Homo sapiens: one gene and its partners. The protein of the gene in region 2 interacts with the protein of the main gene of each other region in a biochemical or structural test. Each region holds a gene or a part of one and is shown on either strand. Other genes may lie near its edges. The genes, in order: ARHGEF25, PRKCG, SCN3A and RANBP10.

Region 1 (7,953 bases), on a different chromosome or scaffold from region 2:
GCTATGAGAAGTACGGCACCATTGTCATCCAGTACGTCTTCCCGCCCGGTGTCCAGGGGGTAAGAAGACCATGGCCTGCCCTTACCCTTTGGCTTTCCCCAAGCTCTGACCTAGGAAAACCGGGTGAGGGTGAGTGTGCTTGTTAGATGTGAGACAGTCTTGCTGTCTTCCACTGTGCCCTCCTACTCAGTGCCCTGGACCTAGGAGGTCCCCGTGAGGCCCAGCCTTTCCATCCCTGTGATCCCAAGGCACACGTGAAAATCAGATATGAGCTAGGAAAAAAAAAAGCAAATCAGATATGAGAGGAAGGAATTGCATATTATTTCCTTGATGAACACAAATACTGTGCTGACATCTTGGCAGAGGTAAATTCTGTGGAGGTGGTGGCTTAGGGGAAGGGAGGCACAATAGGAAGGGATCTGACCAACCCAACAGAGCCAGGAGCATCACTCTGTAAAAACAGGAGTAGTCAAGGCCTATAGGTGTCTTCCTGCTGGACAAAGAGTAATGTGCAATTCTGGCTGCAGAGGGGTGAAGAAGCTGCACAGAAGAGTGATGGAAAATGGAACAAGTTAGACAGTGGCAGAAACATTAGGAGTATTTTCAGGTGAAGGGAAGGCTGAAAGATAGATTATTCTGTCTTCACATTTTTGCTGAGTTGTCTGGAGTGTAGGGACCAGCTAACTTCCATCACTTCTGAGAATCCATTTGTTGCTGAATGGAGACTTGAGGGATTGAGACAGCAGAAAAAATCTCTTAACACATAAGGATTATGCTCTGAAACAGGCTCTTGCTGCCGAGGCCGTATAATCTCTCCTTCTGTGGAAAGCTGTCAGCCTGTTGCTGCCCCGTTCGCATTAGCTGGGGGTGCTCAGACAGAGACTAGCCTGGATGACCCTCCTCTGGCATCTGGGCCTTAGGATGCCTGGCTGCTCACTGCCCACTCTGCTTCACCTTCCTCCCAGGCTGAACACCCAAACCCAGGAGTTCGGTATCCTGGCACCACACGGGTGGCCTACCTCCCGGACTGCCCTGAGGGCAACAAGGTGCTGACCCTGTTCCGCAAGGCGTTTGACCAGCGTCTCACCTTCACTATCGGCACGTCCATGACCACAGGGAGACCGAATGTCATCACCTGGAACGACATCCACCACAAGACCAGCTGCACAGGGGGACCCCAGCTGTGCGACCCCTCTTCATTTCCTTTCCCTTGGCTCCTCCCCTTTGTTCCATTTCCACTGAGGGACCCACCAACCCCTCGCTCACGGAGCCTCCTAACTGGAGAGAACCACTTCCAAACTGTTCAGCCATCTCAGTTTCTCCTACATTCAACCTGGTCCTGGTGTGCCCAGCTTAGCCTACAAAAATAAGCAGAACTGGGCTAAATTATCTTGGATTTGGAGGTGTCCTCCCTTAGGGGAGGTGGGGAGGTGTCTGAGCCACCTAGAATGAGGGTGAGCATGGGGATAATAGCAAGTTCAAACAGCTAACAACCCTCACCCTCATTTCTCTTTGCTCCCAGGTTTGGGTACCCAGACCCCACCTACCTGACCCGGGTGCAAGAGGAGCTGAGAGCGAAGGGTATCACAGATGACTGAAGGACATCGCCTTTGCCAAGGCCCCTGCTGTCTGCCTCTACTAGGACCCAGCAGAAGCCTCTTTCTCCTCTCTGCCCCCTGCCCCCCACACCACACCTGTAGGGGACCTGTCTGACTGGGAAGGGAGTTCCGAGAGGGAGGGGGCAATCCCTTCCCCCATCCCCCACTGGCCAAGTGTTTCAATGCAGTGTGAGCCACTCCCTTCTGGCAGAGGCCGACCTCCAAGGCTCTGTTCTCCCCTCCCCGTGTACATATACTCCCGGTTTCCCTGCCCCTCCATTGCCCTTGGCTTTTTCTGGTATGTGCTGTGCTCCACGACCAAGCCGAGAAAGGACCTAGGGTGGGGAAGGGAGGGTCTCTTGATTCCTAACCGCCCCCACATACTGCTCCACCGCTGAACTTCGGGTGCCGGGGAGGAGAAATTGGGCTGATGTGAGCTCCCCGTCACCCGCCATGGAGCCGGCTGTGTGTGTTCATCAGATACAGTTCTCCCTTAACCTTGTCCTTTCTCTCCTGTGTCTCAGTCTCCGTCAGTCTGTCTTTCTCCGCTCTTCTCTGACCCCTGTGAGGAACCTCCTTACCCTGTTCTGGAATCGCTGCCAGACTGTAGCTTTTAATTTAATAAAAATAAAGTAAAATATGCAACTCTTTATGCCACACCCGTTCTTTTCCAGGGACTGGGTGGGGGTGGGGTGGGGAGAGGGACCTGCTGGAAAGGGGAGAGGGGATGATGGGGTGATCCCTGCGTGCACTCCCAGTCCCTCTGCCTCCTGAGGACCTGGGGAAACGGGATGCACCAGCGGGCTCTGTAGTAACACTGAGAAACCCTGGGTCACTTCGATGTTGGAATTAGTATTAAGAGGGTGTTTTTTTGTTGTTCAACTATGGTTGTAGAGAAAACAACCCTAGCCACTCTGCGAAGTTTGGCTGGGGTGGGAGTGGGGGCGGAGCCGGGCAGGGGGCGGATTCCGCAGCAGCAACTCCCCGGACGCGCGCAGGCCTCAAAGCCCCCCAGCTTCAGTGCCCCCTCGACCCTGAAACTTGGAGCAGGGTGGGGGTTCAGTATGAAGCCCCCGGACCGCCCCGCCCCTGGCCGCACTGACCGGATACTGGGGGTCATGGGGGGCATGCTGCGCGCATGCGCCCTCCCTGGGCAGGAGGGGGTAAGAATGGGGGCTCGCGGTGGGGTCGGGGGTCTTTCGGGGCCTTCAGGAGGGCTGCACCCACAACTCAACTTATCCGAAAACGAGTTCTGCGGGGCAGTCGCAGGAATACATGAATTCTATTACGAGGGCCATAGCCCCGTTCTGGGCGAGCCTTTTATAACAATGTGGGTTTTGACAGGTAGGAGAAGGGGAAGGGGGAGGTCAGGGCTGCCTAGGAGGGCAGGTTCCTTACAGTGGTTCTGTCCCCGCAGCCCCCAAGGAGAAGCCCTCTAGGGTTGGTGGGTACCGAGCCAGAGTCTGAACGTACGGAGGGAGATCACAGAAGGGATCGCGAACATGAGGTCCTCGCCGGGGCTCTGCAGCCCGGTAAGAAGCTGGGGGTGGGGTGGGGCACAGTTTGCTATCCTGCGCCAAGTGGCGAATTCAAAAATATTCTATTCTTATTAGCATAAAGTTCGCATCTAATTTGCATGAGACCCATTTAATCGCAGAGACCTCCACTCTTCTTGCCTTCGAGTCCAATGTGTGTCCCCCATCCCAGTCGATCCCGAGCCCTCGCAGGCAGAGTGTCCCCGCGCCCCACCCCTGGCCCCTCGCCAGCCCGGGCTCCAGGACTTCGCCTTAATTGGCGATTAGTCTTAGCTGGAGTCCCGGGGCCTGGAGGAAAGAAGGGTCCTGAGAGAGGGCGGCATCTGGGTTGTGTTCACCCACAAAAGACTCCCCATACACGCACCCCGTACCAGGGGGCCTCTGTCCACTCGGCCGGGGACAGCCCCAAACCCAGAACATCTTCGCACAGGCCAAGGCCCCATCCACTGAGTCCTCCTTCATCGCAGAGGCCAAGGGGAGACCTGGGCAGACCCTGCAGACAGGCTGAACCCCGACCCCAGCGCTCCGCAGAGCCCGGGATGCGAGAGGGAGGGGGACCCCGGGGCAGGGGAGCACGGGCTGGGGAGGGGAAAAAGCGCTGGGGACGTGGAGTGGGAACGTGGTGGTGTCTGGGGGAGGGGCGATCGGGGCGGGAACCCGGCGCAGGCAGGAGGGGGAACGCGATGGAGAGGGCGGAGCTGGGCCGCAGAGGCCCCGCCTCGTGGCGGCCCCGCGGCCAGGCCTGTTATTCAGCTCTCCGCTCCGCTGGGACCCGCACAGCGCCAGTGGCTCGGGGGTCGGCCCTCGCCTCCTCCCCGGCCCGGGCCTAGAGCCACCCCTAACCAGAGGCCGGAGACAGCTGGAGCGGCTGCCGCATCCCGGCCCAGCCTCCCCTACCATCCCTCCCCCTTCCACTGGACATCTGGACCCTAGGCCCCCGCACCGACAGGGTTCCGGAAACCCTCCCCGCCCAGCCCGGCGGCCGGGCCCCGCGCCTCTCTCTCTCTAGAGCCCCCAGCCCTCCTCAAGACTAGACTTCCGCCTACCCCTGGACACCTCCTCCCGGTCCCCTCCCTCCCCCCCTCCCACAGCCTGGACCGGGGTAGGAGGGAGGGGGGGTGTGCGCCCGGCGCCGTCCCCGCCCCGCCCCCCGTGATTCCCCCTGCATGGCCGGCCCGGGTGGGGGGCGCGGGGGGGCCCGGGCGCCATGCGGGGGGGGCACAAAGGGGGTCGCTGTGCCTGTCCCCGTGTGATCCGAAAAGTGCTGGCAAAATGCGGCTGCTGCTTCGCCCGGGGGGGACGTGGTGAGTGCCAGGTCGAGAGGGTCCAGTGTTGAGTGGGGGGCGGGCTGGGGGTTCAGGGCATCTGTTTGCCCTGGCCCTTGGGATTTAGGGTTGGAGACTGTATGTGTTTTCCAGGAAAGTGGTTTCTTAAGTGATCCCTAAGGTCCCTTCTGCCTCCAAATTTCTGTTAGTTCAAGTTAAGGAAATAGGGGAAGGGGCAGGGAACTCATCTCTTTCCCTTTGTCAAATGGGTTTGAGAAAAACCCACCCACAATCCCCTTAGGCCTAGAACCGATTATTTTCCTCAAACCTTTTGCTAAGAATCTACTTCTGAAGAGGGACAGGAGAATGGAGGAATGAGAATGAGGTGGTTCTACAAGGGGCTTTATAAGGAATCACAGCTCTCTGTCGCTGAGCACAGGCCAACGATAACCCTGATGGACCCTCCTCACTGGCCTCCTCTATTGGGTCTACGCATGTGTTGGGGAGGTGGGCTGCAGAAGTCTTTTCTTTTTATAGTGATTACTGCAATTGGTGGAGGAGGGGACTGGGAGTGGCAGATGGACCCAGCTCATCCTCCCCTCTTCCCAGAGAATGGTCTGTACCCATTGAAAGAGGGAGGGTTGTAGGAGAGCAGATGGCCACCCCCAGCTTCCAATGTCTGCCCAGATGGCTGCCCCCACCCCCATATCTATGCTATGCTCAGGATATGGGGAACCTCCACATGTAACTGGGGGTTCCAGGCCTGGAGAGCCAGGCGTTTACCTTACTGTGCTTTCTCCCAGGGGTGCCCTGGTGAAATTTTCTATCCTGGCCAACTCAAATGAGGATGGCAAGAGAGTGAGCCCTTGGAGAGAGAGGCTGAGCATCATGAAGAGAAGACCCTGGGAGTTCCCTGGGGACCCTGAGTCTGGAGCTGGGGCAAGGTCTATCACCTCCTCTCTTTTTCCTCCCATTAGAATCCTATTCCATTGCGGGCAGTGAGGGGAGTATATCGGCTTCTGCTGCCTCCGGTCTGGCTGCCCCCTCTGGCCCCAGCTCTGGCCTCAGCTCTGGCCCCTGTTCCCCAGGCCCCCCAGGGCCCGTCAGTGGCCTGAGGAGATGGTTGGATCATTCCAAACATTGTCTCAGTGTGGAAACTGAGGCAGACAGTGGTCAGGCAGGACCATATGAGGTGAGCAGGGAACGGCACCAAAGCATGTGGGACATCTATGAAGGACACTGGCAGAGAGGGCAAGTTGGGGCCACCCAGCTACTGTCCCCGACCTCTGACACTTGATTTCTGGCCCCCAGAACTGGATGTTGGAGCCAGCTCTAGCCACAGGAGAGGAGCTGCCGGAACTGACCTTGCTGACCACACTGTTGGAGGGCCCTGGAGATAAGACGCAGGTGTGAGGACAGGCTCTGGGGAGGCTCCTTTCACTCAAGGGGCATTCGTTTGCTCACCCTAGGATGTTCTTTCCTTCCAGCCACCTGAAGAGGAGACTTTGTCCCAAGCCCCTGAGAGTGAGGAGGAACAGAAGAAGAAGGCTCTGGAAAGGAGTATGTAAGTGTCCACAGCCCTTCCCTGCAGTTGCACAACTTCCAGAAGACTGTCCCTCACATTTTAGATGGAATTTCCTCCAAGGTTGGCTATGATGATAAAGGGGAGGAGGGAGGAACGGGCTGAACCAAGGATGAGCTCCGACGCTGAAGTGGGGGCCTCCTCCTGCTTTCATCCTAGGTATGTCCTGAGTGAACTGGTAGAAACAGAGAAAATGTACGTGGACGACTTGGGGCAGATTGTGGAGGTAGCTCCCTTTACCCCTTCCCAGCCCCTCCTGCCTGCTTTTCCATCTGCCCAGGGCTATTTTCAGGAGGTGCCTGGGCGCTCCTCTGTCCCACCTCTCAAGCCTCCCCACTCCTGGACCTTCCTACTCTGGGGGCAGGGCGGCTCCCACCAGGGAGGGGGAGGTGGAACACACCCTGGATTTGTGTACAGGAGCACCATTAAGGTGGGGAGAGGGCCACCACATGCTCATGACCCAACCTCAACTTTCCCACAGGGTTATATGGCCACCATGGCTGCTCAGGGGGTCCCCGAGAGTCTTCGAGGCCGTGACAGGATTGTGTTTGGGAATATCCAGCAAATCTATGAGTGGCACCGAGAGTGAGTGGTGGAACTCTGACAGCTAGGTGCTGGAGAGGGGCCCTCATCTGGTTGTCCTGTATCCTAACATCAGCCCATTGCGACTTAAGGAATGTTTGGAGAAGTTTTGTAGGGCACACTACCAGGGCAGACAGCTCGAAACTGCTGGGAGTGGGCGAGGTGGGGGTTGTGAAATGTATTTGACCTGCTGCTTCTCTACCAACCCCTCCAGCTATTTCTTGCAAGAGCTACAACGGTGTCTGAAAGATCCTGATTGGCTGGCTCAGCTATTCATCAAACACGTGAGGCTTGAGGGGGCAGGGCCTGGGGCGGGGCTTAGGAATGGGCTGGGATTCTCTGGAGATGCGTCCTCCCTCCTTGCCCACCCTGCTCTCTCTTAAACATTACCCCTGTTAGGAGCGCCGGCTGCATATGTATGTGGTGTACTGTCAGAATAAGCCCAAGTCAGAGCATGTGGTGTCAGAGTTTGGGGACAGCTACTTTGAGGTCAGTAGCTGAGATGTCTTGGTGGGAAGGAGGACAGAACTGGGGCTTTCCAGGCTGCATAACCACCCTGTCCCTGTCCCCAGGAGCTCCGGCAGCAGCTGGGGCACCGCCTGCAGCTGAACGACCTCCTCATCAAACCTGTGCAGCGGATCATGAAATACCAGCTGCTGCTCAAGGTCAGGACCCCCTTTTTCCTGGGGGCACAGCTGGCTGGCACAGCTGTTTCCTCATTCATCTCCCCAGGGTTCTTAGGGCTCCCCCAGACTTCCTGAGGGCCCTCACTGGTGTCCTCAGGGGAGGATGTGAGAGCTTCTAAGGGTGTCCTCGTGACCTCCCTGAGCATTTCTTCTCTCTGTCTTAGGATTTTCTCAAGTATTACAATAGAGCTGGGATGGATACTGCAGACCTAGAGGTGAGGACCCCAGATCTTCCAGGACACACCATGTGCTCCTTATCCTCCTAGTATCTCATGGGTTCCCCCAGCCCCTTGGGTGGTTTACAGCTGTCTGGTTTTTAGGGGGAGGCTGGTTGGGGTTGAGATACCGTCTGAAGAGGCAACTGGCCGAGGAGGCCTCTTTCCCAATAATGACTCTCTTCGCCCAACAATGCGCCTCCCTCACCTGTGTCCCAGCAAGCTGTGGAGGTCATGTGCTTTGTGCCCAAGCGCTGCAACGATATGATGACGCTGGGGAGATTGCGGGGATTTGAGGTACGGAGATAGGGCAAGAAACTGGAGGCCCGATGCTCTTCTGCCCCAGCCCTAGCATTCAGGAGGTCCTTATGGGGAGTTGTCTTCTCCTGGGGCTGACCCCATGGTTGGTTGGGCATGTCAGGCGAGGAAGGGAGGAGCAGAGAATTGTCCTTTTTCTTGTTCTTTTTCCAAGGCCACTATCCTTTTGGTT
Region 2 (7,199 bases):
GGACAGGCCACACCCACTCAGAGTACACTAGAAATCGTCTGCCCCTTCTCAGAAGGATCCAGGGTCAGGTCCTACTTGGAATTCCTACGAGCTGGTCCCACTCTCCTGGAACATTCACCCACAGGTGCTGCCCACCTTACCTATTTAGAGACCCAGCTGGGCCCACCTGGCAGGCTCAGTGCCAAGCTCACCTGTGCTGGAGGCTGGAGGAACGACTGGCTGTGTAAGAAGGCCACAACTCATGACAAGGTCTGAGGGTCAGGCCTCACCCGTGGTGAATACTGGACCATCAGCTACACCCTCTAAGGGATCTCAAAGCGTGACCAGAGCAGCAGGGTTGGGGTTACCTCCGGGGCTATGTAGTCCGGGGTCCCGCAGAAGGTGCGGGTTGTCGTCCCGGGGAAGACGTTCTCCTTACACATGCCAAAGTCAGTGATCTTGATGTGTCCCTCAGCATCCAGCATCACATTGTCCAGCTTCAGGTCCCTGGACGATGCAGGGGTGTGGGGCAGGAATTGCAAGAAGTGTTGAGTTCAGCAGTCTAGAGCCACATATTCAAATCCCTTCCCTTCCAGGGGCGTGATTTCCTCCACGGAAATTCCTGGGGCTGCTCACCTGTAGATGATGCCCTGATTGTGAAGGAAGAAGAGGCCGATAGCGATTTCTGCCGCGTAGAACCTGGAGGACGGGGTGGGTGGGGACGTCAGAAGGTCAGTGGCTGGATCCTGCCCCCTTCCACCACCCCGACCATTCTCTGTTGGCCGAGACTCACGCTGCATGGGGCTCCTTAAACTTGCCCAGCTGTTGAATGTGGTACATCAAGTCTCCCCCGGTGACGTACTCCATCACGAAATACAGGCGGTCCTGCGGAGAAGTGCATGGGCTTAGAGGCGGGATCCATCTACCCAGAGTAGGAGAATTTCTTTCCTGATCACTCAGGACAGACGTGGAAGGTTCCAGATGCACCCAACCAGAAATTCAGAGCACCTAGCCACATCCCTGGGAGGGCCCTAAGGTGCTAATCCTGCTACCTCAGAATCTCCACCCGCCAGACCACCGCCAACTATCAGACCACGTGTTCTGGCCCCGCCTTCTCAGAATTGAAGACTGAAGCCCACCATTCGCTCGAAATCCGGGAACACCAAAATCTCTTTCCACAGCCACTCACACACAGATGCAATTCTGGCTTCCTACTAAGAATCAAAGTTGCAGCTGGGCGTGGTGGCTCACGCCTGTAATCCCAGCACTTTGGGAGGCCGAAGCGGGTGGATCACCTGAGGTCAGGAGTTCCAGACCAGCCTGGCCAACGTGGCGAAACCCGGTCTCTACTAAAAATACAAAAATCAGCTGAGTGTGGTGGCGGGAGCCTGTAATCCCAGCTACTCAGGAGGCTGAGACGGGAGAATTGCTTAAACCCGGGAGGCGGAGGTTGCAGTGAGCCGAGATCGCGCCATTGCACTCCAGCCTGGGGGACAAGAGCTAACTCCTTCTCAAAAAAAAAAAAAGGAATCAAAGTTGCTCATACATATATTTTAATCCAGGTGGCTGGCCACTCTCATTCGGAGCCCCTGGAAGTAAAGTCACGCCCTCTTAAAATCTTGCAGGTTCTGACTCTCTGCCCCTAAGTCGCAATCCTAAGGAAATAATGTCCTGTTTCTGATGTGTCCTTCAGTCAGAATCCAAAAGTGATGACCCCGTCACTCGGAGCCCAATTCTGGGCAGGCCCACTAGGAAGGCACCCTCCTCCACTGTGCCCCTTTGCTGAAAATTCCAGAGCACTGGCTACAGCCACTCAAGACCAAGCTCCCCAGGGAAACAGGCATCTGGCCACTCCCCCCAAGAGCCCATCCACCTGGCCACGCCCCCAAGGAACTCAACCGCTTCACGACACCTCCGCAGGACCCATTCACCTGGCCAGGCCATGCCACCGAGGAACTCACCGCCTGGCCACGCCCCCGAGGAGCTCATCCGCCCGACCACGCCCTCCGAAGAATCTACCTGCCTGGATACGCTCATTCATAATCTCGTCTGCCTGGCCTCGCCCCCAAGGAGCCAATCTGCCTGGCCACGCCTATTAATGATCCCATCGCCTGACAAAGCCCGCCCCTCTAAACCACCCCCCCAAAGATTTCATCCGCCTGACCACGCCCCGCGAAGAGCCCCTCTGCCTGGCCACGCCCCCGATGAGTCCCTCCACCTGGCCACGCCCCCGAGGAGCCCCTCCACCCGGCCTCGCCTCCGTTGAGCCCCTCCGCCTGGCCACGCCCCCCGATGAGTCCCTTCGCCTGGCCACGCCCCCCAAGGACCCCCCCCCGGCCACGCCCCCTGAGGAGACAATCCGCCTGGCCTCGCCCACTCAGAGAGCACAAAGTTCTCTTGCCTCGCCCTAAACTCAGAATCCCAACGCAGATGTCCAGAACTGGATAAGGCAGGGCCCGGAGGACAGCCTCCGCCCCCTCCATCCTTACCGGGGTCTGGAAGGTGGAGTGGAGCTGGGTGAGGAAGTGGGGCCGGCCGCCAGGACCCCGGCCCCCCAGCGCCAGCACACGTTTCTCCACCAGCGTGCAGTCCACATCGTCGTCCTGGACGATCACGTCCTTTTTCAAGATCTTGATGGCGTAGAGCTCATCAGAGCCCCTGCGCTCGGCCAGCATCACCTATGCGCACAGTTCCAAAAGGGCCAGTCCATGTTGGGAACCCAGTGGTACAGGACCTGCCCCCTCCCTAAGGGACGCAGGGAAACGGGATCCCAGGCCCTTCCTCCATCTCTTAAGGGACTGACAGCCCTGACTTGCCGCCCGTCCCCTCAAGGAGAGTGTCCACATCTGTAAACCTCTCCTCTCCAGGAACCTGAACGGCCCAACCTAACCATATTTGAAGATGCAGGAGCCCAGTCTCTTCCCACCCCCACTTCCTCCCTAAGAACCAGAAATCTGACCTTCCCACAGACATCCTCCCTTTCCCCCAGAACCCCAGGAATCCAACCTTCCCAAAACTGCCTTTTCCTAGAACCATGAGGAAGCTGAAGTCGGAGATGTGCAGGCGTCCTGGACTCGCCCCGAAGAAGCAGCGCTTGGGGTCGGTGGGACTAGGGGAAGGGGAGGGGATGGGAGAGGAAGAGGGGCCCATCCGCACCCGCTGTGGAAAGGAGAAAGAAAGAGCCAGAGGCAGTTAGACCTTACACAGCGATAAGGAAATGCTCCCAAGAGACACAGCACCCAAGAAAGGAAAGGATGAGAATCGCTAGACAGAGGAAAATGGCCACCCTCCTACCCTGTCCTTGGCTTAATTTTCTCTGACTCCCCATAGCCTGGAGGGTTTATTTATTATTCAACAAACACTTAGCTCTTTTTTTCTTCTTTTTTTTTTTTAGATAGCTTATCATATGCTGTTTCCAGAAAACCCTGCTATCGTTTCCATTTTACAGAAGAGGAGACTAGCACAGAGACGTTAAGTAACTTGCCCCAAGTCACACAGCAGGTAAAGGACAGAGCCAGAAATGAAACCCAAGCAGTCCAGCTCTAGAATCTGGTTGCTCTTAGCCTCTAAGCCGGAATTCCCTAGAGGGTTTGGTAAAACAGATTGCTGGGTCCCACTGCCAGATTTTCTAACTCTATAAATCTGGGGTGGGACCTGAGAATCGTTATGTGTAAAAAGCTTCTGGGTGACATGGGTGCTGCCAGTCCAGGGAGCACACCTGGCTTTCAGCTAGGGTCCCTTCTCTACCTTTTCCTGCCTCGGCCCCCCAGGGAGGGGGCCCAAGACTAAGCTGCTGTCACAGCTTCCACACTTGTCCCTCTACATGGACGGCTGCCCTTTCTAATGCATTCTCTACTCAGCAGGCACAGGAGCCAATTTAAAAATAAATAAACCAGGTCATGTCTCCCCTATGCTTGTAAACCCTTTAACTGCTCCCTCTGTGTTAAGATTTTATTCCACATGACTTGCAGAGCCAGGCTGAGACTGACACTGCAGGTTGTTCTTCTCTCTCCCAGGCTCCATGGTCCAGCCACCCTGGCCTGACACTCATTGTCCTCCCTCCCACCTCAGGGCCTCTGGATGTGCCGTTAGGTCTTCCTGTAAAGCTCTCCCCTCCCCTTCCCTCCTAGTTGTCTCCCAAACACCCTTTAGACCTTGACTCAAGCATCACTTCATAGAGGCCTCGCCTGACTTTTTAAACTGGGTCAGATGCCTCTCTTACCACCCCTTGGTCACCATGGACAGCACCTTCCTGGCACTTTTATTCTTAGTAATTTACATCTATCTGTGTGACTATCTGCTTTCTGCCTGTGAGCTCCCTAAGGCAGGGGTCTGCTTTGTTCGCTAAGACACAGTAACACTGCCTACCTCATTGAGGCTACATAAATATTTGTTGAGGGCTGGGTGCGGTGGCTCATGCCTGTAATCCCAGCACTTTGGGAGGCCGAGGTGGGCAGATCACCTGAGGTCAGGAGTTCAAGACCAGCCTGGCCAACATGGCGAAGCCCCATCTCTACTAGCAATATAAAAATTAGTAGGACATGGTGGCACATGCCTGTAGTCCCAGCTACTTGGGAGGCCAAGGCAGGAGAATCGCTTGAACCCGGGAGGCAGAGGTTGCAGTGAGCTGAGATCGCTCCACTGCATTCCAGCCTGGGCGACAGAGCGAGACTGTGTCTCAAATAGATAAATACATAATAATAATAATAATAATAATAATAATAATAATAATAATAATAATCAGGGCTGTTTCTGTTTGCTGTGTTGTTAGCCCCGTACCTAGCTCAAGGCTTGGCACAGAGTTGGTGTTCATTGGTAATATTAAGTGGTGCCTGCTGAACTGTGGGAGAGTGCTGTGAGCCACAACAGGCACACACACCACCCTACACTCCCTGCCTCTAGGCCTTTGCCCACCATCTGCCCTGCTGGGTTTCTTGGGTTTGTACGGGAGGATCATCCCTGCTGATCTCAAAAGACTCTACCTCTTTGGCTCAGAATGTCCTCCCGCTGGTACCCTTGTCTCCTGCAGAGCCCATTCTCTCTTTTTTTTTTTTTTCTGAGATAGAGTCTCGCTCTGTCACCCAGGCTGTAGTGCAGTGGCACGATCTCGGCTCATTGCAAGCTCCACCTCCCAGGTTCATGCCATTCTCCTGCCTCAGCCTCCTGAGTACCTGGGACTACAGGCACCCACCACCACGCCCAGCTAATTTTTTTGTATTTTTAGTAGAGACGGGGATTCACCGTGTTAGCCAGGATGGTCTCGATCTCCTGACCTCGTGATCCACCCGCCTTGGCCTCCCAAAGTGCTGGGATGACAGGCGTGAGCCACTGCGCCCGGCCGCAGAGCCCATTCTCAAACTTAACTTTGCAAAAGGATCACCTGAGGAATTAATTTAGTAGGCAGACATTTGAGGCATCAGAGAGATCGTCACTGAGTAGGTCTGCAGAAAGGCTGGGGAATGTGCTTTTAAAAGCAAGCACTCTAGGAATTCTGATGCAGGTGAACCCCCACACACAACATTAAAAACTCTGGTGAAAGTTTCTGTAAGAGTCCAGTAAAGACTATAACATGTTGTTGCTGTTGTTGAATCTTGAAGATTCTTGTCTTCTTTTTTTTTTTTTTTTTTTTTGAGACAGAGTCTCCCTCTGTCATCCAGGCTGGAGTGCAGTGGAGCGATCTGGGCTCACTGCAGCCTCTACTTCCCGGAATCCAGCAATTCTCCTGCCTCAGCCTTCCGAGTAGCTGGGATTACAGGCGCCTCCACCATGCCCAGCTGATTTTTGTATTTTTTAGTAGAGATGGGGTTTTGCCACGCTGGCCAGGCTGGTCTCAAACTCCTGACCTCAGGTGATCCGCCCGCCTTACTAGGATCACAGACATGAGGCATCGTGCCCAGTCTATCATATGCTTATATATTTTGTTTAATGTCTTCCTCCCGGTGTAAATCCCATAAGGAAAGGAACTTTTTTGTTTGTTTGTTTGTTCTTTCCCTGCTTTCTCTATATCCCCAGTGAGTAGAGCCACGCCTGGCACACAAAGATGCTCTGTAAAGTATTTTTTGAAAGGGTAAATGAGGGAGAGAGCATTACTTCCTCCTGCCTGAAAATCTGGTCTCTCCTTTGGGAAATCCCGCCCTTCTACCAGGTCTCACCTCTCTAGGAAGCTTTCTCTGACTCAGGCTGTGCCAGGGACGCCCCAGTGCCTGAGGCTGTCTCCATTACAGCAGCATTGCTCCTCGTTGTGAATGTCTGGGTTTGTAACTTTGTCCTCCACTAGAAGAAGAGCTCCACCAGGGAATGGCCTGATTCTATTCCCAGAACAGGGCCTGGCTTATGACACCCTAGAAAATGGGTATTCGTCTGGGCGTGGTCGCTCACGCCTCTAATCTCAGCGCTTTGGGAGGCCAAGGCGGGTGGATCACTTGAGGTCAGGAGTTCGAGACCAGCCTGGCCAACATGTCGAAACCCCATCTCTACTAAAAATACAAAAATTAGCCAGGTGTGGTGGTGCGCTCCTGTAATCCCAACTACTCAGGAGGCTGAGGCAGGAGAATCACTTGAATCTGGGAGGCAGAGGTTGCAGTGAGCTGAGACTGCATCACTGCACTCCAACCTGGGTGACAAAAGGAGATTCTGTCTCAAAAAAAAAAAGAAAGAAAGAAAGAAAGAAAAAGAAGGATATTCAGTGAGTGAATGAATGAATGGAGAGATTAAGATGATCATGCTTGATAGATTTTTTAAAACTCAAGAATCGGCTGGGTGTGGTGGCTCACGCCTGTAATCCCAGCACTTTGGGAGGCTGAGGCGGGTGGATCACCAGGTCAGGAGATCGAGACCATCCTGGCTAACACGGTGAAACCCCATCTCTACTAAAAATACAAAAAATTAGCCGGGCATGGTGGTGGGCGCCTGTAGTCCCAGCTACTCAGGAGGCTGATGCAGGAGAATGGCGTGAACCCAGGAGGCGGAGCTTGCAGTGAGCCGAGATCGCACCACTGCACTCCAGCCTGGGCGTCACAGCGAGACTCCGTCTCAAAAAAAAAATAAAAAACTCAAGAATCGGTCGGGCGCAGTGGCTCATGCCTGTAATCCCAGCACTTTGGGAGGCCAAGGCAGGCGGATCACCTGAGTTTGGGAGTTTGAGATCAGCCTGGCCAACATGGCGAAATCCCATCTCTACTAAAAATAAAAAAAAAATTAGCTGGGTGTGGTGGCGGTCA
Region 3 (7,199 bases), on a different chromosome or scaffold from region 2:
TCCAAAATATGCTCACGAAATCAGACATTGTTGGTTTGGTTCCCACTGTGTCAACATTATACCCTCAAGCCAAAACCTGTCTTTGATAACTCCATCTGTGCTAGACTTACTTTGTACTCATATGTATTAAACGTCTATAAATAAATAATAGTAAAGAATTTTAATCCTCTTTTCCACAACACAGGATTGAAGAATTAATAACATTACTACTATGATAGAAACTTAAGAATACTAATCATGCAGTAGGAACAATTTCCTTCCTTCCTTGCTTCCTTCCTTCTTTCCTTCCCTCCTTCCCTTTCTTCTTTCTTTCTTCCCTTCCTTCCTTTCTTTCTCTTTTTCTTTTCTTTCTCTTTCTTTATTTCTTCCTTCTTTTCTTTCTTTCTTTCCTTCTTTTTTTCTCTTTCCCTTTTTTCTTTATTTCCTTCTTTCTTTCTCTTTCCCTTTCTTTCCCCTTCCTTCCTCCCTCCCTCCCTCCCTCCCTTCGTTCCTTCCTTCCTTCATTCCTTCCGTCCTTCCTCCCTCTTCTCCTTTCCCTCCCTTCCTCCCTCCCTCCCTTCCTTCCTTCTTTTTTCTCTTTCCTAGTAACACAACAGTAAGAGTAGGTTTATTAACCTACAAAATAACTATAGCCCTCAAGTGAAGCTTTTAAAAGTAGTTCTTAGTATTTTCAAGTTACTCTGGAAGACTATAGATCTGCTCATCCTTGACTGGGCAAAATATAATAAGTACTACTTGTACTTTCCTAATGTGTATAACACTTTCATAAATGAAACACTATCATAGTGAATAAGACTTTCAGAGGTTAACAAAAGTACATAAAGTTTTCACATAAAAATCATAGCAAAACCTAATATAGAGAGTAAGGAGATGACGAAAATAAGTTATTTTTTAAAGAACATAATGTAGTTGAGAGTGTAATGTACTAAATAACATCTCTTTTTTGGAAGGCTACTTTTTTTTGAGATAGGGTCTTGCTTTGTCACTCAGGGTTGAGTAGAATGATGTGATCGTGGCTCACTGCAGCCTCTACCTACTGGGCTTAAGCAATCCTCCCACCTCAGCCTCCTTTGTAGCTGGGACTACAGGCATGTGCCACCATGCCCAGTGAATTTTCGTATTTTTTTTTGTAGAGAGGAGATTTTGCCATCTTGCCCAGGCTGGCCTCGAACTCCTGGGCTCAAGTGATCTGCCTCCTTGGCCTCCCAAAGTGCTGGGATTACAGGCATGAGCCACCATGCCCAGCCTAAAAGGCCACATTTTTTAACCACATTTTCAAATGATCAAGAAAATGAATATACTAAAGACTCAGAATGGTTTAATTTCCTGTGAAAAATTGGAATTTTTAGAAATCCATTTCCCAATAAAGAGTATCTTGTGATTTTCCAACATCACTATAGACATATGACTTTCAATATTGCTTTTTGATAATGCATATAAGCACAATGAAAATAGTAAATAACTGTAGTACATGGTTATCATAGGAAATGGAACAAAAAATTTAAAAGCATTCTTACCTCTTTGCTTTCTTCTAGTTCTGACTCACTGCTGAACTCTTCAGTATTTAAGTTTTCAAAGTCAGACTCTCCAACAGCAATTGGCACTGTGACGGTGAGGCTGGGGTTGTTTATGAATGACATATAATCATTTTCATCGATTACGTATTTTTCAACACTGCTTCCAGTACCTACACCACTGGTGGTTCCATTCCCATCTCTAAGATAATTAAGCTCTTTGCTTATTTCAATTCCAGTATTATTGGACATGCAGCTGTCTATCTTATTGCCTTCATGGATTTCTATAACTTTTGGCTTTCTAAAAAAGGCTTTTTGGAAACACTCCCGCATCTTATTTTTCACATAATCAATTCCCTTTTGCATTCTTCCTACTGCAATCTGCAGATTATTCATTTCATTGTCATCATCAGTAGCAGCAAGGTTGTCTGAGCTAAATGAACTCAACAATAAGGCCAGAAAGAGGTTCAGAACCTAAAAGAAAAAAAGAAAAATGTCTATTTTAATATTGAAATATGCATTTAAATAACAGCCTAAAAAGGGAACTCATAGATCTTTGCTAAAATTATTTCAACAAATGTTTATTGAATGCTTACTATATTTCAGATGCCATGTCTAAGTCACACACTCTTTAAAGGACCTAATATCCTGCTCTAAGGGCAAAATGATAAAACAAGCACCTCTTCTTTTTTTCCTATTGGGAGGGACAATAGGAAAGCAGAGCTTCTAAGATTTAAATGGTGTCTACTCAGGTTTGCCAGTGCAAAGACAAAATCCTACCCTCAAGGATTCTGCCAACGAGAGAGAGAGAGAGAGAGAGAGAAAGATACTTTCTTCTTAATCATTTTATCTTACTTCATCTTACCATTTTTTTTCCTAGGGAATTTCTAGCTTCGTGTATATAAAGAATGAACTTATTTATTTAATAGCCTGATGATATGTTCCAAATGATATACTTGAAATACAAATTCCTTTGGCCCAATGGCCACAAACTTTTATAACAGCAGAAATTTCTAAGTGCAAATTATATACGATTTAACACGTTTCCCATCAAATACACTTTGAAATTTATATGTTCAAATAGCTCAACAGATGGAGAGAAATCTAAAAGTATACCAGGGTTTAGGCTAGACCCACATAAGTTACTTTTCTTTTTCTTTCTTTCTTTGTGTGTATGTGTGTGTGTGTGTGTAGAAAGTATGAGGCGATTTTAACTTTCAGAATATCATGGGATATGTGAAAAAGTTACTCAGCCAACTGATAAGTTATGGTTAATGCAGGAATAATTCATTATTTCTGATGTAAAAGAAAATTTATAATAATATTTTTAGCCTGAAATGTAGTTAGTTATTGAGTTTCAGAATATGTTACACTATAGGAAGACATGCAAGGCAAAAGCCCCAGTTTGCTTCCTTACTTCTGTATCAGATTTTTTCAGAATCTAGAGCTCCCTAATTTACTATTCTGGAGAAAAAAATTACATGTTCGTAGGTATCCCAGTAGCATTCTTTTGAACAAGTTTATCTGAAATGTATCCCTCAAAGGAAAGGCCCAATATGATGGCATAAAGAAATGCTTTGCCCACGCATGACTGAGAAATTTAAGCATTAAACATATAAATATATAAACTATGCTTTTGCATTAGTGATTTTAAGTCACAGTTAAAAGTAACTCCTTTGAGTCTGGACAATGTCCATACATATGAATAATTTAAACTGTAATAATTGGTTTTCCTATAGTAATGCAAATTCAGGGAAGAAAACATTTTGTCCTCTTCCAAGTTACTTGGATAATTACAATGCATAGCTAAAATATAATGGTCTACTTCATTGAAATGTGTCTTCAAAATTTGGTACTATGCAACCTATGTCTCTAAGTAAGCAAACTACATGAACTATGAACATGCAAAGAGCAATTTGATTATAGAATAGATAGTTGTCTTTTTAGATTTAGTAGAGGTCATTTTCTTATCAAAACAATATTAGGATACAATTCTTCTTAGTGATAAAAATTTACTTTCTTTGAAGAAGAAAGGAAAATCTAATATTTATGCCCCCAGGCATTCATAAATACATCTGATTTAATCTTTGCATTAAAGATATGATTTCAGTTTTATTATTCCAATGTCATAAAAAATGGGAAACCAGAGCCCAGGAGAAGTTAAATAACTTGCTTATTCTCTGAGTGCTAATAGGGGGATTTCAGTCTAGGCCACTTACTATAAACCAGAGATATGTTTACTACATCTGGCCACGTTCCTAGCTACTGTCTGCTCTTGTTCTAATTTATGAGCATTTGTACTACATACATACCACAAGGTTTCCAATGACCATGACCAACATGAAAACAATAAGGCACATGGTTTGGCCAGCGACCTCCATACAGTCCCACATGGTCTCTATCCACTCTCCACACAGCACGCGGAACACAATCAGGAAGGAGTGGAAGAAGTCGTTCATGTGCCACCGTGGGAGCGTACAGTCATCATTGATCTTGCAGACACATTCTTTGTAGCTCTTACCAAAGAGCTGCATGCCGACCACAGCAAAAATGAAGACGATGATGGCCAACACCAAGGTGAGGTTTCCTAGAGCCCCCACAGAATTGCCAATGATCTTAATTAGCATATTTAGTGTGGGCCAGGATTTTGCCAACTTGAAAACTCTAAGCTGTAATCAAGTGAAAAGATGCTGTTAGTAGTAATCATAATATAATTTTAGACATTATTTTATTAGTATGTGGTATCATAGAACCACACGTGGTAGATGTAAAAACTCAAAATATACTGAACTGATTCAATTTCAAATCCAGAAAAAATAGTGTTAACAATATTAGAATTGTAAATCTGGTCATAATATCATTTAAGTGCAAAAATAAAAATAAAACATTTCAGAAATAATAAATAAAACATTTCTGATTCATCCAAAGATATGCCCATGTAAACAAATGGTATTTTGATTAGAGACTTTTTAAATTAGCAAATAAATGTTATCTTCAGATTCTATTTTAGACAGTAAAAAGAAATATTAAAAGTATAAATCATAGATTTTTATAGGCCAATATAAAAGTAAAATAACCTAAATAATGTGATAAAAATGTACAGGAAAAAAATTGAAAAAATACACATTTTGCTTAATTTTCAATAAATTTTACATATTTCTCAATAAAATTTTGTGATAATTCAAAAAGTTTTTTATACAATTATTTAAGATACTAATAACATCAAATATTTTCCCACATGTTGCTTTAAAACAGTCCCCATTCCTAGAAGTAGGGTTAATAAAAAGCTAAAATTAACTGGGGTCTAAATTTTTATTTGCGTATCTTTACAGACTGTAAGGCCAAAAAAGCTTCATAAACTTAAAACACAGTTTTAGAAAGTACTTGTAGGTTTTCTAATGTGCCCTACATACCTAATCATTATAGAGTATTTTGAATGCTTTCATCATTCTTAGAAAATGGTTTAGCTTTAAAGAGGATGTTTACATGTTTTCTTAGAATGTCACATATTGATGTAAATTTAAAATTAAAATTAATAATTATATAAATATACATTGATTCAATTTCAAAATAAATGTTGTGCCAATGAGCGACAGGGATATATATAAATAGATACCAGTCTGAATGATCGCAGTACAGACAATCCCTCCACATTTGACAGACCAAGCTCCATTAAACTGAGGCTGACAATAATTCCATCAAAGATATTCCAGCCTTCTTGGAAATAGTAATAAGGATCCATGGCAATGATCTTGAGAACCATTTCTGCTGTGAAAATCCCAGTAAAGACCTAAAAAATAGAGATCAGCACTACTTCAAGAGCACTGAAAAACACTGATGCTACACGAATTTATAAAGAAGAACATTAACAGGAATAAAAATATCTAAAATTTAAAGTGAGAGAATGTGACAAATCAATTCAAGTCTTAGTTTTTTTATTTTCATTTTTTATTTTTATTTATTTTTATTTATTTTATTTTATTATTATTATACTTTAAGTTTGAGGGTACATGTGTACAATGTGCAGGTTAGTTACATATGTATACCTGTGCCATGCTGGTGTGCTGCACCCATTAACTCGTCATTTAGCATTAGGTATATCTCCTAATGCTATCCCTCCCCCCTCCCCCGACCCCACAACAGTCCCCAGAGTGTGATGTTCCCCTTCCTGTGTCCATGTGTTCTCATTATTCAATTCCCACTTATGAGTGAGAACATGTGGTGTTTGGTTTTTTGTCTTTGTGATAGTTTACTGAGAATGATGATTTCCAATTTCATCCATGTTCCTCCAAAGGACATGAACTCATCATTTTTTATGGCTGCATAGTATTCCATGGTGTATATGTGCCACATTTTCTTAATCCAGTCTATCATTGTTGGACATTTGGGTTGGTTCCAAGTAATTGCTTCAAAGAGAATAAAATACCTAGGAGTCCAACTTACAAGGGACGTGAAGGACCTCTTCAAGGAGAACTACAAACCACTGCTCAATGAAATAAAAGAGGATACAAACAAATGGAAGAACATTCGATGTTCATGGGTAGGAAGAATCAATATCGTGAAAATGGCCATACTGCCCAAGGTAATTTATAGATTCAATGGCATCCCCATCAAGCTACCAATGACTTTCTTCACAGAATTGGAAAAAACTACTTTAAAGTTCATATGGAACCAAAAAAGAGCCTGCATCGCCCAGTCAATCCTAAGCCAAAAGAACAAAGCTGGAGGCATCACACTACCTGACTTCAAACTATACTACAAGGCTACAGTAACCAAAACAGCATGGTACTTGTACCAAAACAGAGATATAGATCAATGGAACAGAACAGAGCCCTCAGAAATAATGCCACGTATCTACAACTGTCTAATCTTTGACAAATCTGAGAAAAACAAGCAATGGGAAAAGGATTCCCTATTTAATAAATGGTGCTGGGAAAACTGGCTAGCCATATGTAGAAAGCTGAAACTGGATCCCTTCCTTACACCTTATACAAAAATTAATTCAAGATGGATTAAAGACTTAAAAGTTAGACCTAAAGCCATAAAAACCCTAGAAGAAAACCTAGGCATTACCATTCAGGACATAGGCATGGGCAAGGACTTCACGTCTAAAACACCAAAAGCAATGGCGACAAAAGCCAAAATTGACAAATGGGATCTAATTAAACTAAAGAGCTTCTGCACAGCAAAAGATACTACCGTCAGAGTGAACAGGCAACCTACAAAATGGGAGGAAATTTTCGCAACCTACTCATCTGACAAAGGGCTAATATCCAGAATCTACAATGAACTCAAACAAATTTACAAGAAAAAAACAAACAACCCCATCAACAAGTGGGTGAAAGACATGAACAGACACTTCTCAAAAGAAGACATTTATGCAGCCAAAAAACACATGAAAAAATGCTCACCATCACTGGCCATCAGAGAAATGCAAATCAAAACCACAATGAGATACCATCTCACACCAGTTAGAATGGCAATCATTAAAAAGTTAGGAAACAACAGGTGCTGGAGAGGATGTGGAGAAATAGGAACACTTTTACACTGTTTGTGGGACTGTAAACTAGTTCAACCAATGTGGAAGTCAGTGTGGCGATTCCTCAGGGATCTAGAACTAGAAATACCATTTGACCCAGCCATCCCATTACTGGGTATATACCCAAAGGACTATAAATCATGCTG
Region 4 (7,199 bases), on a different chromosome or scaffold from region 2:
TGGAATCCCTGAAAGCCTTCCCATGGCTGGGATGCAGCCACATGTTAGTATGGGCCAGGTGGGTTTTGAGGAGGCCAAAGGCAGTTACACAGGGCAGGCAGACATCAACTGGCTCATTTCCCTTTTTTTGTAGATTTTTTTTTTTTTTTTTGAGGCAGGGTCTCGCTCTGTTGCTCAGGCTGGAGTGCAATGGCATGATCACAGCTCACCGCCACCTCAACTTCCTGGGCTCAGTCAATCCTCCCACCTCAGCTTCCTGAGTAGCTGGGACTATAGGTGTGTGCCATCATGCTTGGCTCATTTTCTTATTTTTTGTAGAGATGGGGTCTCACAATGTTTCCTAGGCTGGTCTTGAATTCCTGGGCTCAAGTATTTCTTCCACCTCAGCCTTCCAAAGTGCTGGGATTATAGTCATGAGCCACCATGCCCAGCTGATTTTTTTTTTAACTATTTTATAGAGATGGGATCTTGCTGTGTTGTCTAGGCTGGTCTCCAACTCCTAGCCTCAAGTGATCCTCCTGCCTCAAAGTGATCCAAAGTGCTGGGATTGCAGGCAGGAGCCACCATTGTCAGCCTCCCATGGATTTTGGAGGTGTGTTTTTTATCCTGGTTTAGTCCATGACCCAAGCATTAACTGGTTGTCTAGCTTTCCTGTGTTACCTAGTTTGATCCTCACAGCATCTCTGGCAAGTGGCTAGAGCAGGTGATCATCTACCTTCCCATTTTGTGAGTGAGCCCTGAGTCCCTGGGATGTTTGGTGGCCTACCCTGGCTGCAGGGCTTAGGGTGTGCAGTGGAGTAGCCTGACTTATCAGATGTCCTCGCCTGATCCTAGACACACATGTCCATGCTGCTGCTGCCTTTCCCCATTGTAGCTGTTGCATTTCTTCCCTGGGTAGAGTGAAGGAATGTTCTGTTGGATTCCTACCAGATTGCAATGTTAGGGGACAGAGCTGAAAGGTGCATGGTGCTGTGTAGGGCCAGAGAATTGTGGCATGCTCTGGGCCGGGCTTGATCAACTTACTGTTCCATTTAATCTGTAAACTTGCTTTTCTGTAGATTTGAGTACACCTCCTTTGTAAAAGGTATTTATAAACCCAGTTGTTAGTGTCATTGTTCTCCAGAACGTCCTTTGTTTTGACAATATCTTTTGGAGAAGAACACACTAAGCTAGTCTAATAAGGAAAGTTTCATGTCAAGATTTCACAGAATATTTATATATACCTACTATGTTCCAGGCCCTATACTAGGTATAGGGAGAACAGATGTAAAGCCAGCACAGATCAGCTTTGTCCTCAGGAAGCCTGTGGCCCATTCAGTAGAGAGTGGACTGAAAGTCTTTCTGCAAGAGGAGGCAGAGCCTGGGAACAGTTGGGAGGAATGAGTAGGAGTTCCCCAGTAGGCGAGACCTGTTAGACCTATGAGTCTGATGGGTAACTAGCTTGACTTCTGGGTGCTAGGCTTTCTGGGCACTCCTCAAGTATAAGAGAGCTCTGTGGAGTAGGAGGGGCTGTGTTTGAGCTAAGAGCTTGGCACAGACTGATGGGCTTCAACTGCATTTTGCCGAGTCACCAGAGCTGTGAACTCGGGGAGCGGGTCTGGTGGGGTGAGGAGACATCAGAGCACTGCCAGTGGTGCCAGGAGATAAGGGGCATCCAGGTCTGTCTTTCTAGGAAGCGAAGGAGGGCCTGAAGCTGAGGGTCCCTGGGGAGGAGCAATGTCTGCAGGCAGAGTTCATGGACCTGTGGGTGTCCCTGGCTCTTAGTGATGACACATGGAGGGTGTGGCTGGCTAGGCTGACAGATGCTCCAGTGTGACCCTCAAAATAGACTGTAACATCATCCCAGCGGCGGAGGCCTCCTGACATGTGATGGTTGCTTTACCCAAGAGTAGTAGGCCTGGGCTAGAGCACTGGAAGGCATGGAGAGGGGTGGGGGCATTTTCCTCTGTAGCCAGTGTCTGGGCCCAGGCCCAGAGCAGGGGTCTCTGACCACAGCCAGCCTTCCCTTGCTCCTGCAGCTGACTTCCTTTGGCCAGGCAGCAGTGCACTCATTCATTCATTCCAGACACCAGGGCGCAGTACCCATTGTTTTTTTTTTTTGGTTGTTGTTGTTGTTGTTGTTTTTGAAACAGAGTCTCGCTCTGTTGCCAGGCTGGAGTGCAGTGGCACAATCTTGGCTCACTGCAAACCTCCGCCTCCTGGGTTCAAGTGATTCCCCTGCCTCACCCTCCCGAGTAGCTGGGACTACAGGCGTGCACCACCATGCCCAGCTAGTTTTTGTATTTTTAGTAGAGACGGTGTTTCACCATGTTGGCCAGGATGTTCTAGATCTCTTGACCTCATGATCTGCCCTCCTCAGCCTCCCAAAGTGCTAGGATTACAGGTGTGAGCCATCACATCCATTGTTTTGTCCCAGCCTGGGCCCCAGGAGCACAGGCATGAGGCCCCACCGGTGGTGTCGAAGGGTCAGGCCACCGTATGTGTCATATCCAGGGGTGGCCTGGAGGATGGACTGTACCTCAGAGTTTGAGGAAAACATCATAGAATCATATAAGAGGTGATGTGGGCTCTGGAAAGAGGAGTTAGAGTGTTCTAGGTGAACAAAGTGAGAAGCAGATGCTTCAGGCAGAAGAAACAGTGCATAAAAAGACATGGAGCTGGCCGGGCGCAGTGGCTCACACCTGTATTCCCGGCACTTTGGGAGGCCAAGGCGGGCGGATCACGAGGTAAGGAGATCGAGACCATCGTGGCTAACATGGTGAAACCCCGTCTCTACTAAAAATACAAAAAATTAGCCAGGCATGGTGGCGGGCGCCTGTAGTCCCAGCTACTCGGGAGGCTGAGGCAGGAGAATGGCGTGAACCCGGGAGGCCGAGCTTGCAGTGAGCCGAGATCGCGCCACTGCACTCCAGCCTGGGCAACAGAGCGAGACTCTGTCTCAAAAAAAAAAAAAAAAAAAAGAGATGTGGAGCGCAGAACATGAGGTCGGTAGGGCCAGACTGAAAATACCTTGTGTGTGGCCTGGCTCATGCCTGTAATCCCAGTACTTTAGGAGACTGAGGCGGGCAGGTCACTTGAGTTCAGGAGTTCGAGAACAGCCTGGCCAACATGGCGAAACCCCATCTCTCCTAAAAATACAAAAATTAGCCAGGCGCTAATAATAGTGGTGGTGCATGCCTGTAATCCCAGCTACTTGGGAGGCTGAGGCAGGAGAATCACTCGAACCTGGGAGGTGAAGGTTGCAGTGAGCCGAGATCACGCCACTGCTCTCCAGCCTGGGTGACAGAGTGAGACTCTGTCTTAAAAAAATAAAAAAGAAAATACCTTGTATGCTGTGGCCAGGGAGCGTGGGCTGTATCTTGAGGGCAGTAGCAGTGTGGGGGGCTGTGGATCTACCCATGCTTTTGAGAGTGAAGAAAAGAAGAGACTCTGCCAGTCTGGTTCAGCCAGGCTTCTCTGGCCAAGAGCCCTTGTCCAGGGTGGGCCAGTGACTTTAGGTCTTTGGCTCTAGCATGGTTTTCTCATAGCGGTTGTCTTTTTTTCTCTTGGCTGTTCCTTTGGTATGAAGAGATGAAGGGATGGGGTGTGAAAGACTGGTAGCCAGGAGGCTTCTCAGAGGTGAGAGGACTCTGCTTGTGCTGGAGTTCTGGTATTTTGGTTTTGCCAGCTCCCATCTGAAAGACAGTAATGCCCCATGTTTTATACCCAAGCATCTCCTCTGGTGAGCCAGAATCAGCCAAAGTGATTTTCCATGGAGACCTAGAGAGCCACTGTTAATTAAGATATCTTGATTAAGATCTCACCTGCCACATTCCTGGTGTGGAGGACCATCTAAGCTTAGGCCCTTCCAGCTGAGAGACAGCTGTGGCTGGCTTCTCACCCTGGATCCCCTCACCAAGTTCCAGTCTACATGCATTGTACAGTGCTGTTGAGAACTTTGGTGCTCATATGTCATCTGGGGAAGGCGTTGTCCTGCCCGCCCTGATAAGAAGGTGCTGTCCTTGCCCAAGGTAGGTACAGGCCGTGGTTGTGCCCCATTTTCCCTTACTGCCCCCCGGAGTTGATGGTCTTACAGGCAGATGCTGAGCTTTGGGCTGCACTTCTACTCAGGTAACACATTGTGCTATTTGTGGAGACATGGAATGTTTGGGTTCTGGAACACAGGGTAGGATGTTTGGGTTCTGGAACACGGGGTAAGAGAACTGGAGTCTAGATGGTGGCCACTGTTCTTTGCTTTTTTTTTTTTTTTTTTTTTTGAGAGAGGGTCTCTCTCTGTCACTCAGGCTGGAGTGCAGTGGCACAATCATGGCTCACTGCAGCCTCGACCTCCTGAGTTCAAGCAATCTTCCTACCTGAGACTCTTGAGTAGCTGGGACTACAGGTGCATGCCATCATGCCTGGCTAATTTTTATTTTATTTATTTAATTTATTTTTTGAGACAGAGTGTTGCTCTGTCACCCAGGTTGGAGTCCAGTGGAGTGATCTCGGCTCACTGCAACCTCCGCCTCCCAGGGTTCAAGTGATTCTCATGCCTCAGCCTCCTGAGTAGCTGGGATTACAGGCGTGTGCCATGACACCTGGCTAATTTTGGTATTTTTAGTAGAGACGAGGTTTTGCCATGTTGGCCAGGCTGGTTTTGAACTCCTGACCTCAAATGATCTGCCCACCTCAGCCTCCCAAAGTGCTGGGACTACGGGTGTGAGCCACCATCCCCAGCCCTGGCTAATTTTTAAATTTTTTGTAGAGACAGGGTCTTGCTATATTTCCTAGGCTGGTCTGGAACTCCTACGCTCAATCAATCCTCCTGCCTCAGCCTCCCAAAGTGCTGGGATTACAGGCATGAGCCACCACACCTGGCCTGTGGCCACTTTTCTGGTAGGGCCTCCCTCCTCACTGTATGTTGCTACCCAGGCTCCAACTGTGAGCTGAGAGTGGGGAGCGTCGTTGCCTTCTTTATAGCTGGGGCCTTCTTGGTCAAGGATTAGCTTTTAGAGAAATTCCTAGAATTCACTTCACCTCCTGCCTTTCTGCCTTGATGGTGTTTTTGTTCTCTGGAACTTTTGGTCTTTTCCCTGTATGGGTCATGGTGTAAGGGAGATTCCTTGTTAGAAGAGAAGCAGAAGCTCATCAGGCCAGAGCACAGGAGGATGAACCTAGCAGCCCCATGTGGCAGGCACTGTGTGCCATTCCTATTATGGGACCATTGGGAAGGAATAAAGGGCTCCAGAGTGGGTCTTGTGTGGTCGGGTCAAGTTGGAAAGAAGGGACTCATCAGTGGAAGAGGGATGGATAATTATGTCTAAATGCAAAGATGTTCCTCTGCCTCTCCATTCTGTTCAAAATCCATATAAAATGTCTTTGTAATTCTAGGATCGTTGGTGTTGTGACTTGGTGGTGGAACAGAGCCTAGCCCTTCTGTCATGAAGGGGCCAGAACAAGATGCTCTGTACTATATAGGGAAGTTGGGAGGGGACTGGGGAAGCCCTTGGCACCCCTCTTATGCCATTTCTTGTTACTTAACTCTTGGAATTAGAGATGCTTGGGGTTTCAGGGGAGTTTAGTTTAGGTCAGGGGTGGCAAGTGTGAAGGCCCCAATACCCCACAATACCCTCAGCTTCTATGACCAACATTACTGATTGACAGTAGCACTTGTTCTTGTCCAGACAGAGCCCAGAATTTTTCTCAATGCACAGCACATCAGGCAGCTATAATTTACTGGTCAGAGTTTCATCATGAGATGAAATCTACTAGCCCTCAGGGTGGAGGTGGTTGGAAGATAAGTGGATAGAGGCCCAGATGGTTGAGGGCTCAGCTTATTTCTTCTAAAGGAGAGTCCCAAGGCAGAGCTGAACCAAGAGGAAAGAAACAGAGGGGTTGGATTGCTGAGTAGAACTGATTCTAACCCAGTTTATAAAGCCATGTATCTGAAATTGGCATGGACTTTTTAAAAAAATGGAATGCCCTGTTTTTATAACAACTTGCACCAGTAGTTTGTCAGTAGTTATATTTACTTTTATAAAAATCAAAATAGGCTGTGTGCTGTGGCTCACACCTGTAATCCCAGCGCTTTGGGAGGCCGAGGCAGGCGGATCACAAGGTCAGGAGTTTGAAACCAGCCTGGCCGACATGGCGAAACCCTGTCTCTACTAAAAGTAAAAAATATTAGCTGGGCATGGTGGCAGGCGCCTGTAATCCCAGCTACTCAGGAGGCTGAGTCAGGAGAATCACTTGAACGCGGGAGGTGGAGGTTGCAGTGAGCTGAGACTGTGCCACTGCACTCCAGCCTGGGCAACAGAGTAAGGCTCTGTCTCCAAAAAAAAAAAAAAAAAATCAAAATATTTTTATTTTACGTATAGAAAACATTTGTTTGTTTGTTTGTTTGTTTATTTTTGAGACGGAGTCTCACTCTGTCGCCCAGGCTGGAGTGCAGTGGTGCGATCTCAGCTCACTGCAAGCTCCACTTTCCGGGTTCACGCCACTCTCCTGCCTCAGCCTCCTGAGTAGCTGGGACTACAGGTGCCCGCCACCGCACCTGGCTAATTTTTTGTATTTTTAGTAGAGATGGGGTTTCACCGTGGTCTCGATCTCCTGACCTCGTGATCCACCCGCCTCGGCCTCCCAAAGTGCTGGGATTACAGGTGTGAGCCACCGCGCCCGGCCGAAAACCTTTATTTTTAAAAAATTATTTTATTTGTTTGTTTATTTTGAGACGGAGTTTCACTCTTGTTGCCCAGGCTGGAGTACAATGGCACGATCTTGGCTCACCATAACTTCCGCCTCCCGGGTTCAAGCGATTCTCCTGCCTCAGCCTCCTGAGTAGCTGGGATTACAGGCGTGCACCACCATGCCTGGCTAATTTTGTATTTTTAGTAAAGACAGGGTTTCTCCATGTTGGTCAGGCTGGTCTTGAACTCCCGACCTTAGGTCATCCTCCTACCTCAGCCTCCCAAAGTGCTGGGATTATAGGTGTGGACCACCGCACCCAGCCTATTTATTTTTTTGAGGCGGGGTCTCACTCTGTTGCCCAGGCTGGAGTGCAGTATTGCAATCATGGCTCTGCAACCTCCCCTCCTGCTCAAGAGATTCTCCCACCTCAGCCTCCTGAGTAGCTGGGACTACAGGCACATGCCATCATGCTCAGCTAATTTTTTTTTTTTTAAGTAGAAATGGAATTTCACCACTTGCCCAGGGTGATCTTC

What was found.
Region 1: the proteins of PRKCG (region 2) and ARHGEF25 form a complex in vitro, tested with the Homo sapiens proteins (one large-scale study listed by BioGRID).
Region 3: the proteins of PRKCG (region 2) and SCN3A form a complex in vitro, tested with the Homo sapiens proteins (one large-scale study listed by BioGRID).
Region 4: the proteins of PRKCG (region 2) and RANBP10 form a complex in vitro, tested with the Homo sapiens proteins (one large-scale study listed by BioGRID).

The regions. Positions count from the first base shown.
Region 1 is NC_000012.12:57,607,555-57,615,507, forward strand, and holds the start of ARHGEF25 (rho guanine nucleotide exchange factor 25), read left to right. Parts: upstream 1-3,880; 5' UTR 3,881-4,340; coding exon 4,341-4,437; intron 4,438-5,201; exon of another isoform or gene 5,202-5,342; intron 5,343-5,375; coding exon 5,376-5,590; intron 5,591-5,709; coding exon 5,710-5,805; intron 5,806-5,885; coding exon 5,886-5,962; intron 5,963-6,139; coding exon 6,140-6,206; intron 6,207-6,461; coding exon 6,462-6,565; intron 6,566-6,776; coding exon 6,777-6,846; intron 6,847-6,961; coding exon 6,962-7,051; intron 7,052-7,134; coding exon 7,135-7,227; intron 7,228-7,412; coding exon 7,413-7,463; intron 7,464-7,682; coding exon 7,683-7,760; intron 7,761-7,953. Other genes in the region: probable E3 ubiquitin-protein ligase DTX3, read left to right, coding at 1-59, 966-1,183, 1,523-1,598. UniProt on the Homo sapiens protein: May play a role in actin cytoskeleton reorganization in different tissues since its activation induces formation of actin stress fibers. It works as a guanine nucleotide exchange factor for Rho family of small GTPases.
Region 2 is NC_000019.10:53,893,898-53,901,096, reverse strand, and holds part of PRKCG (protein kinase C gamma type), read right to left. Parts: intron 3,139-7,199; coding exon 2,986-3,138; intron 2,658-2,985; coding exon 2,469-2,657; intron 865-2,468; coding exon 773-864; intron 679-772; coding exon 616-678; intron 487-615; coding exon 348-486; intron 1-347. UniProt on the Homo sapiens protein: Calcium-activated, phospholipid- and diacylglycerol (DAG)-dependent serine/threonine-protein kinase that plays diverse roles in neuronal cells and eye tissues, such as regulation of the neuronal receptors GRIA4/GLUR4 and GRIN1/NMDAR1, modulation of receptors and neuronal functions related to sensitivity to opiates, pain and alcohol, mediation of synaptic function and cell survival after ischemia, and inhibition of gap junction activity after oxidative stress.
Region 3 is NC_000002.12:165,126,114-165,133,312, forward strand, and holds part of SCN3A (sodium channel protein type 3 subunit alpha), read right to left. Parts: intron 5,305-7,199; coding exon 5,131-5,304; intron 4,184-5,130; coding exon 3,827-4,183; intron 1,989-3,826; coding exon 1,518-1,988; intron 1-1,517. UniProt on the Homo sapiens protein: Pore-forming subunit of Nav1.3, a voltage-gated sodium (Nav) channel that directly mediates the depolarizing phase of action potentials in excitable membranes.
Region 4 is NC_000016.10:67,795,047-67,802,245, reverse strand, and holds part of RANBP10 (ran-binding protein 10), read left to right. Parts: intron 1-7,199. UniProt on the Homo sapiens protein: May act as an adapter protein to couple membrane receptors to intracellular signaling pathways.